3 linked regions of the Homo sapiens genome follow. The protein of the gene in region 1 interacts with the protein of each later gene in a biochemical or structural test. Each region holds a gene or a part of one and is shown on either strand. Other genes may lie near its edges. The genes, in order: UBE2R2, BTRC and ARIH1.

Evidence for each region.
Region 2: the proteins of UBE2R2 (region 1) and BTRC form a complex in vitro, tested with the Homo sapiens proteins (2 studies listed by BioGRID).
Region 3: the proteins of UBE2R2 (region 1) and ARIH1 form a complex in vitro, tested with the Homo sapiens proteins (one study listed by BioGRID).

The regions. Positions count from the first base shown.
Region 1 is NC_000009.12:33,820,059-33,823,710, forward strand, and holds part of UBE2R2 (ubiquitin-conjugating enzyme E2 R2), read left to right. Parts: intron 1-3,652. UniProt on the Homo sapiens protein: E2 ubiquitin-conjugating enzyme that accepts ubiquitin from an E1 ubiquitin-activating protein, and catalyzes its covalent attachment to other proteins by an E3 ubiquitin-protein ligase complex.
Region 2 is NC_000010.11:101,357,101-101,360,752, reverse strand, and holds part of BTRC (F-box/WD repeat-containing protein 1A), read right to left. Parts: intron 1-3,652. UniProt on the Homo sapiens protein: Substrate recognition component of a SCF (SKP1-CUL1-F-box protein) E3 ubiquitin-protein ligase complex which mediates the ubiquitination and subsequent proteasomal degradation of target proteins. Recognizes and binds to phosphorylated target proteins.
Region 3 is NC_000015.10:72,561,229-72,564,880, forward strand, and holds part of ARIH1 (E3 ubiquitin-protein ligase ARIH1), read left to right. Parts: intron 1-254; coding exon 255-321; intron 322-2,165; coding exon 2,166-2,272; intron 2,273-3,652. UniProt on the Homo sapiens protein: E3 ubiquitin-protein ligase, which catalyzes ubiquitination of target proteins together with ubiquitin-conjugating enzyme E2 UBE2L3.

The sequences.
Region 1 (3,652 bases):
GTACTAGTTAGAATAATCTCACTCCAATAAAGTTAAAAACAAGAGCAAACAAAACAAAACAAAACAAAACTTGTACATGAGAGAAAATAATGGGTTGCAAGTTGTAATATTTGTGCATAAGTCTGGGAAAGGAGTGTGGAGAACCCTCTCTGAAATAGGAAGTATGGAAGGATTCCTTGTGTTAATACACTGATTTAAATTAAATGCTTCTGAACTTCAGTCCTTGTTTAAAAGAATGATTTAATCTCGTGCTTTGTGATGTTAGATTTCTTAAGCTTTGAGTGTTTTTACCTTTAATTCTGACATGTATGAAAATTTGTAAACAGGTTTTATGGTTTAGTCTTGTGTGAGAAGTTTGTTCGATTGTATTTTCGACTACTTTTTCCCTTATATGGCCTTTTATCCCATTAGTTGTTCATTAGAAAAAGGCAAATTTATGGTCATGAGCAGTTGACACTGGGGATATGTTTAAAACCATTGTTTTTATTTTACTGCTTTTGTCTTAAGACAAGGCTTTTAGTGTATTTCACTACAGCTGCAGTTGAAAGTTGGCACAAAGCTTTCCCTACCATATCACTCTTCTCCCTTATTAAATGTTAGTCCTTGAACATTTAGTATAATTTATTTTCAAGTTAAACTCTTTTCCCTTTTTGGCATAGTCATTCGTGAAGGCAGTGGGACTGCCAGTCATTCTTTACATTTTTCATACTGTAATTCCTTTAACTTTTATATATTAATAGGTTTCTAACTGATCTTTTTCACCCTGAAATAGTTGGCTCTTGTCTCTTACCCACAGGATCTGCATTGGAGATTTGTGAGACCTGTATTTCACAGAATTTTTTTATTCATCCTGCTTTCGCTTATTTAATATCGCCAATCCACGTGATTCTTAGTTTTGGGCCATATAGATGTAGGATGGGCAAAGATAGTTTCTTCTGTCCATTCTGAATACTATACAATCTTTTTTGGCCTTACTATCTTTTTGTGTAGTTTCTTATTTTGCTACCTAAGCAAGTCGGAATTTTATTGTTACTAGAAAAATAAATTGTGGATCAAGTCAGTAGCTAATGAAGACTTTTAACAAGTTCACCCCCTTTCTTTTGAAAGGAACTTTTTCAGGGTCTTTCTCTGTCACTTAGTTTGGGGTACAGTGGTGTGATCATGGCTCACTGCAGCTTCCACATCCTAGGCTCAAGCAGTCCTCCCACCTCAGCCCCCTGAGTAGCTGGGACTACAGGCATGACTACGCCCGGCTAATTTTTTTTTCTTCAGTATTGTTAAGTGAGGTAGGGTCTCACTATTTTGTCCAGGCTGGTCTCAAACTCCTGGGTTCAAAGGATCCTCCTTTCTCAGCCACCCAAAGTGCTGGTTTTACAGGCGTCAGCCACCATGCCCGGCTGGAACTATCTTTTCAAATAACTCCTGCTAAGGATTGTAGCTTAGTGTGGGTGCTTTAGTACTGAACCTCCTTGGAACTTTTGCATTATTTATCTAAAGCATTATAGCAGTGAGTCTAGAGCCAGAAAGAGTGCCTCTTTTATGATATGCATAACAAAAAAAAATTTTTTTTTTTTTTGAGATGGAGTCTCACTCTTTTGCCAGGCTGGAGTGCAGTGGCACGATCTCAGCTCACTGCAACCTCTGCCTCCTGGGTTCAAGCGATTCTCTTGCCTCAGCCTCCCGAGTAGCTGGGATTACCGGCGTGCGCCATGAAACCTGGCTAATTCTTTTTGTATTTTTAGTAGAGACAGGGTTTCACCATGTTGGCCAGGCTGGTCTTGAACCCCTGACCTTAAGTGATCTGCCCATCTCAGCCTCCCAAAATGTAATCCTAATTAGAGGCCTGAGCCACCACTCCTGGCCAACCTTTTATAGTTTTGATTTTATTAAATAATTTGATTGAGGTAATGAAATATAGATGTGTTCCATTTTTAGAAAACTCCAGTCTGATAATTTAGAAAGTATTTGTTGTATACTTAAAGTTTTCCTTATTAGGAACATCTTTATTAGACTCAACACTGACATATATATATATATATTTTTTTTTTTTGAGACTGAGTTTTGCTCTTATTGCCCAGGCTGGAGTGCAGTGGAGCGATCTCGGCTCACTGCAACCTCCGCCTCCTGGGTTCAAGCGATTCTTCTGCCTCAGCCTCCTGAGTAGCTGGGATTACAGGCATGCGCCACCATGCCCAGCTAATTCTGTATTTTTGGTAGAGACGAGGTTTCTCCATGTTGGTTAGGCTGGTCTCAAACTCCTGACCTCAGGTGATCCCGCTCACCTCAGCCTCCCAAAGTGCTGGGATTACAGGCCTGAGCCACCACACCTGGCCTACACTGACTTACATTAAAGAAACTCTTCAAAACCTTTTTTTTTTTTTTTTAAGAGATAGGGTCTCACTTTGTTGCCCAGGCTGGAGTGCAGTGGTGTGATCATAGCTCACTGCAGCCTGAAACACTTGGGCTCAAGGGATCCTCTTGCCTCACCCTCCTGAGTAGCTGGGACTGCAGGTGCATACCACACTCGTTTTAATTTAAAAAAAAAATTGTTTATGCAGAAAGGGTCTCATAGGCCAGGCTGGTCTCGAACTCCTGGCTTCAAACAATCCTCCCACCTTGGCCTCCCAAAGTGCTGGTGTTACAGATGTGAGCTACCACACCCAGCCAAATAATTTTTTTTTTAATAAGAGAATATGCATTATTTCCTATGCTTCATTTGTTTTGCAATGAATGAATCTATTTTCTGCCTTCCCTCTTCCCCCTAAAAAAACAAACCAGACTTAGCCTAGATCTGGCAATGTCATTTAGATATTTTATTTCTTTTTTTTCTTTTTCTTCTTCTTATTAATTTTTTTTTTTTTTTTTTAGCTGAGTCTCGCTCTGTTGCTCAGGCTGGACTGCAGTGGTGTGATTTCGGCTCACTGCAACCTTTACCTCCTGTGTTCAAGCAGTTCTCGTGCCTCAGCCTCCCAAGTAGCTGGGATTACAGGCGTGCACCACCATGCCTGGCTAATTTTTGTAATTTTTAGTAGAGATGGGGTTTTGCCATGTTGGCCAGGCTGGTCTTGAACTCCTGGCCTCAAGTGATCTGCCCACCTTGGCCTCCCAAAGTGCTGGGATTACAGATGTGAGCCAGTGTGCCCAGCCTATTATTATTATTTTAGAGACAGAGTCTCGCTATGTTGTCCAGGCTTGTCTTGAACTCCTGGGCTCAAGTAATCCTCCCGCCTCAGCCTCCCAAAGCACTGCGATTATAGGTCTGAACCATTGCACCCAGCCTATTTTATGACTCTTTAATTGGTAAAATATAGTTGAAAAAAAATTTTTTTTTTTCCTAGATGGAGTCTTGCTCTGTTGCGCAGGCTGAAGTGCAGTGGCGCGATCTTGGCTCACTGCAACCTCTGCCTCCCGGGTTCAAGCAGTTCTCCTGCCTTAGCCTCCCAAGTAGCTGGGATTACAGGTGCGTGCCAGCACGCCCGGTTAATTTTTGTATTTTTAGTGGAAACGGGGTTTCACCATGTTGTCCAGGCTGGTCTCAAACTCCTGACCTCAGATGATCTACCCGCCTTGGCCTCCCAAAGTGCTGGGATTACAGGCATGAGCCACCGCGCCTGGCTGAAAAAATTTTTTTAGGAAAATGATTGTTTGCCTT
Region 2 (3,652 bases), on another chromosome or scaffold:
GGCCGAGGCACAAAGATCACTTAACCCTAGCCTGAGTTCAAGGCCAACCTGGCAACAGAGCAAGCAAGATCCCATCTCTAGAGGCCAGACGCGGTAGCTAATGCCTATAATCCCAGCACTTTGGGAGGCCGAGGCGGTCGGATCACCTGAGGTCAGGAGTTCAAGAATAGCCTGGCCAACATGGTGAAACCCCGTCTACAAAAATACAAAAATTAGTCAGGGATGATGGCAGGTGCCTGTAATCCCAGCTACTTAGGAGGCTGAGACAGGAGAATTGCCTGAACCTGGGAAGCGGAGGTTGCAGTGAGTTGAGATCGTGCCATTGCACTCCAGCCTGGGTGACAGAGCAAGACTCCATCTCAAAAAAAAAAAAAAAAAAAAAGCAGATCCCATCTCTAGGCCAGGCATAGTGACTCACGCCTGTAATCCCAGCACTTTGGGAGGCCAAGGTGGGCGGATCACTTGAAGTCAGGAGTTCGAGACCAGCCCGGGCAACACGGTGAAACCCTGTCTCTACTAAAAACACAAAATTTAGCTGGGCGTGGTGGCACATGCCTGTATTCCCAGCTACCTGGGAGGCTGAGGCACAAGAATTGCTTGAACCCAGGAGGTAGGGGCTGCAGTGAGCCAAGGTTGCACCACTGTACTCCAGCCTGGGTGACAGAGTGAGACCCTGTCTCAATTAAGTTTTTTTAAAAAAAAGAGATCTCTTTTGAAAGTTTATTTTCTAATTTAGCAATAAATAATTTCTAAAACTACTCAAAGTTGAATTTTTACTCCACATCTAATAATTCACTTTTGATAATTTATGAAAATCTACTATAAACATAAATTTAGAAAATTAGCAAAAAGAGGCCGGACACGGCAGCTCACGCCTGTAATCTCAGCACTTTGGGAGGCCAAGGCGGGCAGATCACCTGAGGTTGGGAGTTCGAGACCAGCCTGACCAACATGGAAAAGCCCTGTCTCTACCAAAAATACAAAATTAGCTGGGTGTGGTGGTGCATGCCTGTAATCCCAGCTACAGGGGAGGCTGAGGAAGGAGAATCACTTGAACCTCAGAAGCAGAGGTTGCAGTGAACTGAGTTTGCACCATTGCACTCCAGCCTGGGCAACAAGACCAAAACTCCATCTCAAAAAAAAAAAAATACAACAAAATTAGCCAGGCAAGGTGGTACACGCCTGTAATTCCAGCTACTTAGGAGGCTGAGGCAGGAGAATCATTTGAACCCAGGAGGCGGAGGTTGCAGTGAACCGAAATTGTGCCACTGCACTCCAGTCTGGGCAACAGAGCGAGACTCAGGGTATCTCAGACAAAAAAAAAGAAAATAGGCAAAAAGAATTACCACTAATTTCATACCCCAACACCTATAAGAGTACCCAGAAAACAAACTGTTTGAAAGCCAATTTAAACTGGGAATAGGTAAAGTATACACAAAAACTCAGACAACTTAAACTAAGAACTAGTTTCAGATGTTCATCCCACTACCTGGTAATCAATTTCACTGATGTAAAGAAAATTCCATTACAGTGAAACATCTGACAATTTATTTTAAAATGTAATCTGTTTAGATACCTCTGTTTCCTGAAGTAAGTAAGCAAGTTTACTTAATCACATTAATTCACCCAGTATTATGTCAACAGTGACATCATTAAGGGAAGTCACGCAGGAGATCATGTTAGTGCCTTCCGAAGTTAACCTCAAAAAAAGAGATGCCTCCTAAACATTCCTAGCATTATGACCCACAAACTTGGCCGATACCATTTTTATTTTTAGCCTTAACATCCAACTAGCATAGCACCTACGGTAGCAAGTCTCAAAAGGTGGCCCCCAGCAATTCCCCCTTCCTTGTTTATGCACGCCACCCTTCCTATCAATAGGTAGACATTATTTCTCCTCCCTCTGTAGTTGGCCTTGACTGGCTTTGACCCACAGTGACATTCTTGGACTTCCAAATCTAGGATTTAGAAGACTGGCAGTCTCTACCTCCTGTCTCCTGGAATGTCCCTTCTTAGAACCTTGCCACCACACTTTAAGGAAATCCAAGCAGCCAGGTAGAGAAAGGCCCATATAGAGGAGAAGTGAAGGTCTTTCCCACACCTCAGCCAATACCAAGTGAAGCAGAAAAACCATCAGATTTGAGGGGAAAAATAATTGTTTTTTTTAAGCTAAGTTTTGAGGTTGTCTGTTAAACAGCAAATATTTACCCTTTATACTGTTTCATTTATCTATCAGCTCTATAAATAAAACAATACATTCTAAAATTATTTCATCTATTTCAAGCTACTGTACTTGATTCTGGGATTGGCTGGACAAGAATATATTTATCCTGTTTTTAAAAATAAACGTGGCTTGGCAAGGTGGCTCACGCCTGTAATCCCAACAATGGGAGGCCAAGGCAGGAGGACCCCTTGAGCCCAGGAGTTCAAAAACCACCCCTGTCAACAAAGGGCGACCCTTGTCTCTACAAAAACAAAAAAGAAAAAAAAAATAGCCAGCATAGTGGTGTGTGCCTGTAGCCACTTGAGACGCCGAGGCAGGAGGATCATGTGAGCCTGGGAGTTTGAGGCTGCAGCAAGCTATGACTGCACTCTAGCCTGGGCAACATAGTGAGACCCTGTCTCAAAGGTGAAAACAAAAATAAAGTTCAAATTCCTCCTCAGTATGTCTTTTCAACCCCTATCTTAAACGTGCTTGTGTGTGTGTGTTTGTGTGTTTTGGGGTCTATATTCCCTCAATCATTTTCATTTCTCTTCTTAGGTTCTCTTCAAGTTTCCATTTATACTTTTGTTAACCAAAAAAGTATTAAGAAAGGTCCTTGAGGACCTGCTAAAGCTGAATGAGAGACATTAGCACGTAAGTTAATGTAAACCGTTGCTTTCAATATCATTTATTTGTTTTTAAAAGTTAAACATTCTGCTTAAACTTTTTTCACAAGTAAAACAATAAGCTTTAAGTCTCGATCACGTGTGAATTATGGTCATCTCTGAATCAGCAGTCTTATTAACAGGATTTTATTGTAAAATTCTTTATCAAGGCACTTTAGTATAGCAATGAGCAAATTTGTGAGAGTATCCATTTCATTCTGGCATTTTAAACTAATTTTACATTTGTTTAAACCATGGAAATCATGACATCTGTATAAAAGTTGTCATTAGCGATTCACAATTGAGGGAAAGGTTAAGACCAGAACAAAGCCAAATAGTAATAAAAATGCCCGTTTGATTAAAAGGATAGTTCTTCCATGTGTACTGTGCACTAATTATTTGATGCTAGCTCAAATAGCTTCCTTTTTTTTTTTTTTTTTTTTTGAGACAGAGTCTCGCTCTGTCACCCAGGCTGGAGTGTAATGGCACGATCTCAGCTCACTGCAACCTCCACCTCCTGGGTTCAAGTGATTCTACTGCCTCAGCCTCCCGAGTAGCTGGGACTACAGGTGCGCGCCACCAGGCCTGGCTAATTTTTGTATTTTTAGTAGAGACAGGGTTTCACCATGTTGGCCAGGATGGTCTCAATCTCCTGACCTCGTGTTCCGCCCGCCTCAGCCTCCCAAAGTGCTGGGATTACAGGCATGAGCCACCACGCCTGGCCAATATCTTCCTTTTTTGTTTGTTTGTTTTTTTGAGACGGAGTCTTGCTCTGTCGCCCAGG
Region 3 (3,652 bases), on another chromosome or scaffold:
TGGGTAAAAGTAGACTATTTAAAAAATAAGAACCATGGAAAAAAAGTCTATGAAAATAAAACTATACAAACTTTGAAATTATTGTTCTGATCAGTACAGTTATATTTGTTGATAGCCTATGTGCATTTCAGTATTTACAGCTTAGGGCATAAACATGTAGCCGTAGCATAAACAGCTTTTGAAACTATGTTTTATAAATGTGGAAAATACTCTTGACTGGAAACTTTCTAATCTATTTTTATTCTTGGTTTCAGGCGCCTGATCACAGATTCAAAAGTTAAATTAAAGTATCAGCATTTAATAACAAATAGCTTTGTAGAGGTAAGTGATTTGTTTTCCTTCTTGTAAGAAGGAATTCTGTTTATTAATAGAAATACTATTTTAAAAATTATAATTTATTGACAGTAAAAAACATCTTTAACATATTTATGAAGCATGCCAAAATACCTTTATTCTCAAAAGAGTATGACAGGCCAGGTGTGGTGGCTCATGCCTGTAATCCCAGCACTAAGGGAGGCCGAGGCGGGTGGATCACCTGAGATCAGGAGTTCAAGACCAACATGGCGAAACCCTGTCTCTTCTAAAAATACAAAAATTAGCTGGGCACAGTGGCACAAGCCTGTAATCCGAGCTACTCGGGAGGCTGAGGCAGGAGAATCGCTTGAACCCTGGAGGCAGAGGTTGCAGTGAGCCGAGATGGCGCCACTGCACTCCAGCCTGGGTGACAGAGCGAGACTCCCTCTTAATAAAAAATAAAATAAAATAAAATAAAAGAGTATGAGAAACCAGTAAGTACATCTCTCCATAGATCTTGACCTTGGATAATAAAATTATTTTTACTGTATTCTTCCTTTACTTTTCTTTATCCCTAGCTGAGAATTGTAGTAGATTACTAATCGTGTCATGTTTAATCATGTTTGAGATTCTAACCCTGCTATTTCTCTGCTCGTTTTAGGTTTCATTACCAGTAAATCTTGTTAATAAAGAATGCTATCCTTTATTGGACCATGCCTTTGCCCATTTGTTCTATGACTCCTTTTGTGCTACAGTGGCAGAGTTGAGTAGTTGCTACAGAGACTGTTCTGGCCTGCAAAACCAAAATTCTTTACCCTCTTGGCTTGTTACAGAGGAGTTTTTCAGCCCCTGTATGACAACATCAGTAACTTGGTCTTTTAATTCTAGAAAGTAATTATTTCTGTTAGAGATTAAACCTGGAAACAGCCTATTTTAGAAATAGTGTATTATTTGAAATGGTCAATGGACTTCTGAATTCTGGTGCAGAGTGTTTTTTTTTCATAATACTATAAAAGTTATATTTCCTTTTGAGGAACTAAAATGCAATCTTTGCCTGTGGTTTAGGAACTGGGTTTTTTGTTTGTTTTTTTTTTTCCTTCTTACAAGAGCTTTTTATGGGAGAAGTTGTATGTATATCCTTTAGCCTATCTTGAACTATTCTGTAGCTTCTAAACACCTTCCTTGATAAAGAGTATATCTGATTTTCTTGTGTCTTTTGAAAATTGTTCTGAAATAGAACTGTAAATAAATTAGTGGTTTTTAATGGTCACATACATGATATTTAATTAAAGTTATTCAGTGGGATTTTGAAGATAGAACAAGAGGTGATTCATGTATTTTATAAAACCAGGTCTTCAGGGATCAGTCATCTTTAAAAAAAAAAAAAAAAGGCACATCTGAAGTGTTGCTATAGAAGACCACAGCAAGTTTTCATAAGCTTGTGTAATTATCCCCCATTTGCCCCTTGTACCAGAGAAGCAATATAAATAGCTTGATGTACTAGGAAATCTTGCATCATGACCTAATTTAATTTGCTGTCTTTTTTTGAGGCAGGGCCTCATTCTAACACCCAGGCTGGAGTGCAGCAGATGATCACAGCTCTCTGCAGCCTCTACTTCCTGGGCTCAAGTGATCCTCTTGCCTCAGCCTCCTGTGTAGTCGGGACTACAGGCACATACCACCATGCCTGGCTAAATTCTTTTTTCTTTTTTTTAAGGTAGAGACAAGGTCTTGCTATGTTGCCCGGGCTGGTCTGGAGTGCTTGACCTCAAACAGTCCTCCCGCCTTGGCCTCCCTAAGTTCTGGGATTATAGGTGTGAGCCACTGTGCCCAGCCAGCTGTCATTTTTTATTTTCTAACTTGTATTTCAGTGCAATCGACTGTTAAAGTGGTGTCCTGCCCCAGATTGCCACCATGTTGTTAAAGTCCAATATCCTGATGCTAAACCTGTTCGCTGCAAATGTGGGCGCCAATTTTGGTAAGCAAGTGATTTCCTAAATTGAAATAGTGCACAAAGCGTTTCCATTTCTCCTGTTTATTCTTGGTAGTAAAATAGCAGAAAAAAAGTGTTTACCTTAGGCAGGGAGATGTTTGATACTGGTTTAAAATAGTATATATCTCTTTCAGAATTGAATGAAAAGGTCACATCTTAAAAAAATTTTTCCTCTTTCCTTGATGTTCTAACTTTTTTGAATTTTTTTTTATGGAGAAAATATACAACTCTAATCATATCTTCCTGTATGCTCCACTGTAACTTAATGGGAGCAAACTTGTAGATCTGGGACTATACGTTTTTCTTTACTCTGCCAAATTTTAACCTTACTTATGCAAAGGAAATGTGCAGGTAAATTCTGCTGATGGTCTCCTTTTTAACTAAGAGTTTTCCTGTGGCTCCTCTCGCCCAGCTTTCTTGGTAACTTGGGCTTTTGGAGTTCTATAGTATACTCTTCAGCCTCTGAATTCTAGATTTGAACTGCCAGGAAGTTTCCAGTGCCACATATTAGGGGATGTCTTAATCAGTTCAGGCTCCTTTATAGGTGTTCTAGTTTTTTCCAAAGTGGATAGGCTGAAAATTTTTCAAATTTTTGACTTCTTATTTCCTTTTGATGAACAGTTTATCTCTAGGTCATTCATCTCTTCTTGCATTTTCTATAAACATTCAAGAGAAGCTAAGCTGCGTCTTCAACACTTTGCTTAGTAATTTCCTCAACCAGATATTCAGTTTCATTTCTCTACCTTCCACAAAACAATTCAGCCAACTTCTTTGCCACTTTATAGCAAGGATGGCCTTTCCTCTAGTTTCTAACAGCATGTTCCTCATTTTCATCTGAGACCTCATCATAATGGCCTTTACTGTCCATATTTCTAACAACATTCTGTTCATGGCCATTTATTTAGGTTTTCTCTATGATTGAGGCATTCCCTGCACTTCTGTCTTTCTGAATCCTCACCAGAATTACCCTTAACAATTCAGTTCATTCACAGTGATCTAGGCTTTTTCTAGCTTGCACTTCCAAGCTCTTCCAGCCTCTACTTACTACCTAGTTTCAAATCGGCTTTCACATTTTTGGTTTTGTTAGAACAGCACCCTCACTTCTTGGTACCATTTTCTGTCTTAATGTTCAGGCTTTTATAACAAAAGACCATAAACTGGGCGGCTTCTAAACAACATAAATTTATTTCTTACAGTTCTTAAGGGTGAGAAGTCCAAGATCAAGGTGCCAAAAGATTTGTTGTCTGGCGAGGGCCTGCTTTTCTGGTTCATAGATGGTGCCTACTTGCTGGGTCCTCATATGGTGGAAAGGACAAGGCAGCTCTCTGGGCCCCTTTTTTTTTTAAAAAGGATGCCAATTCCATT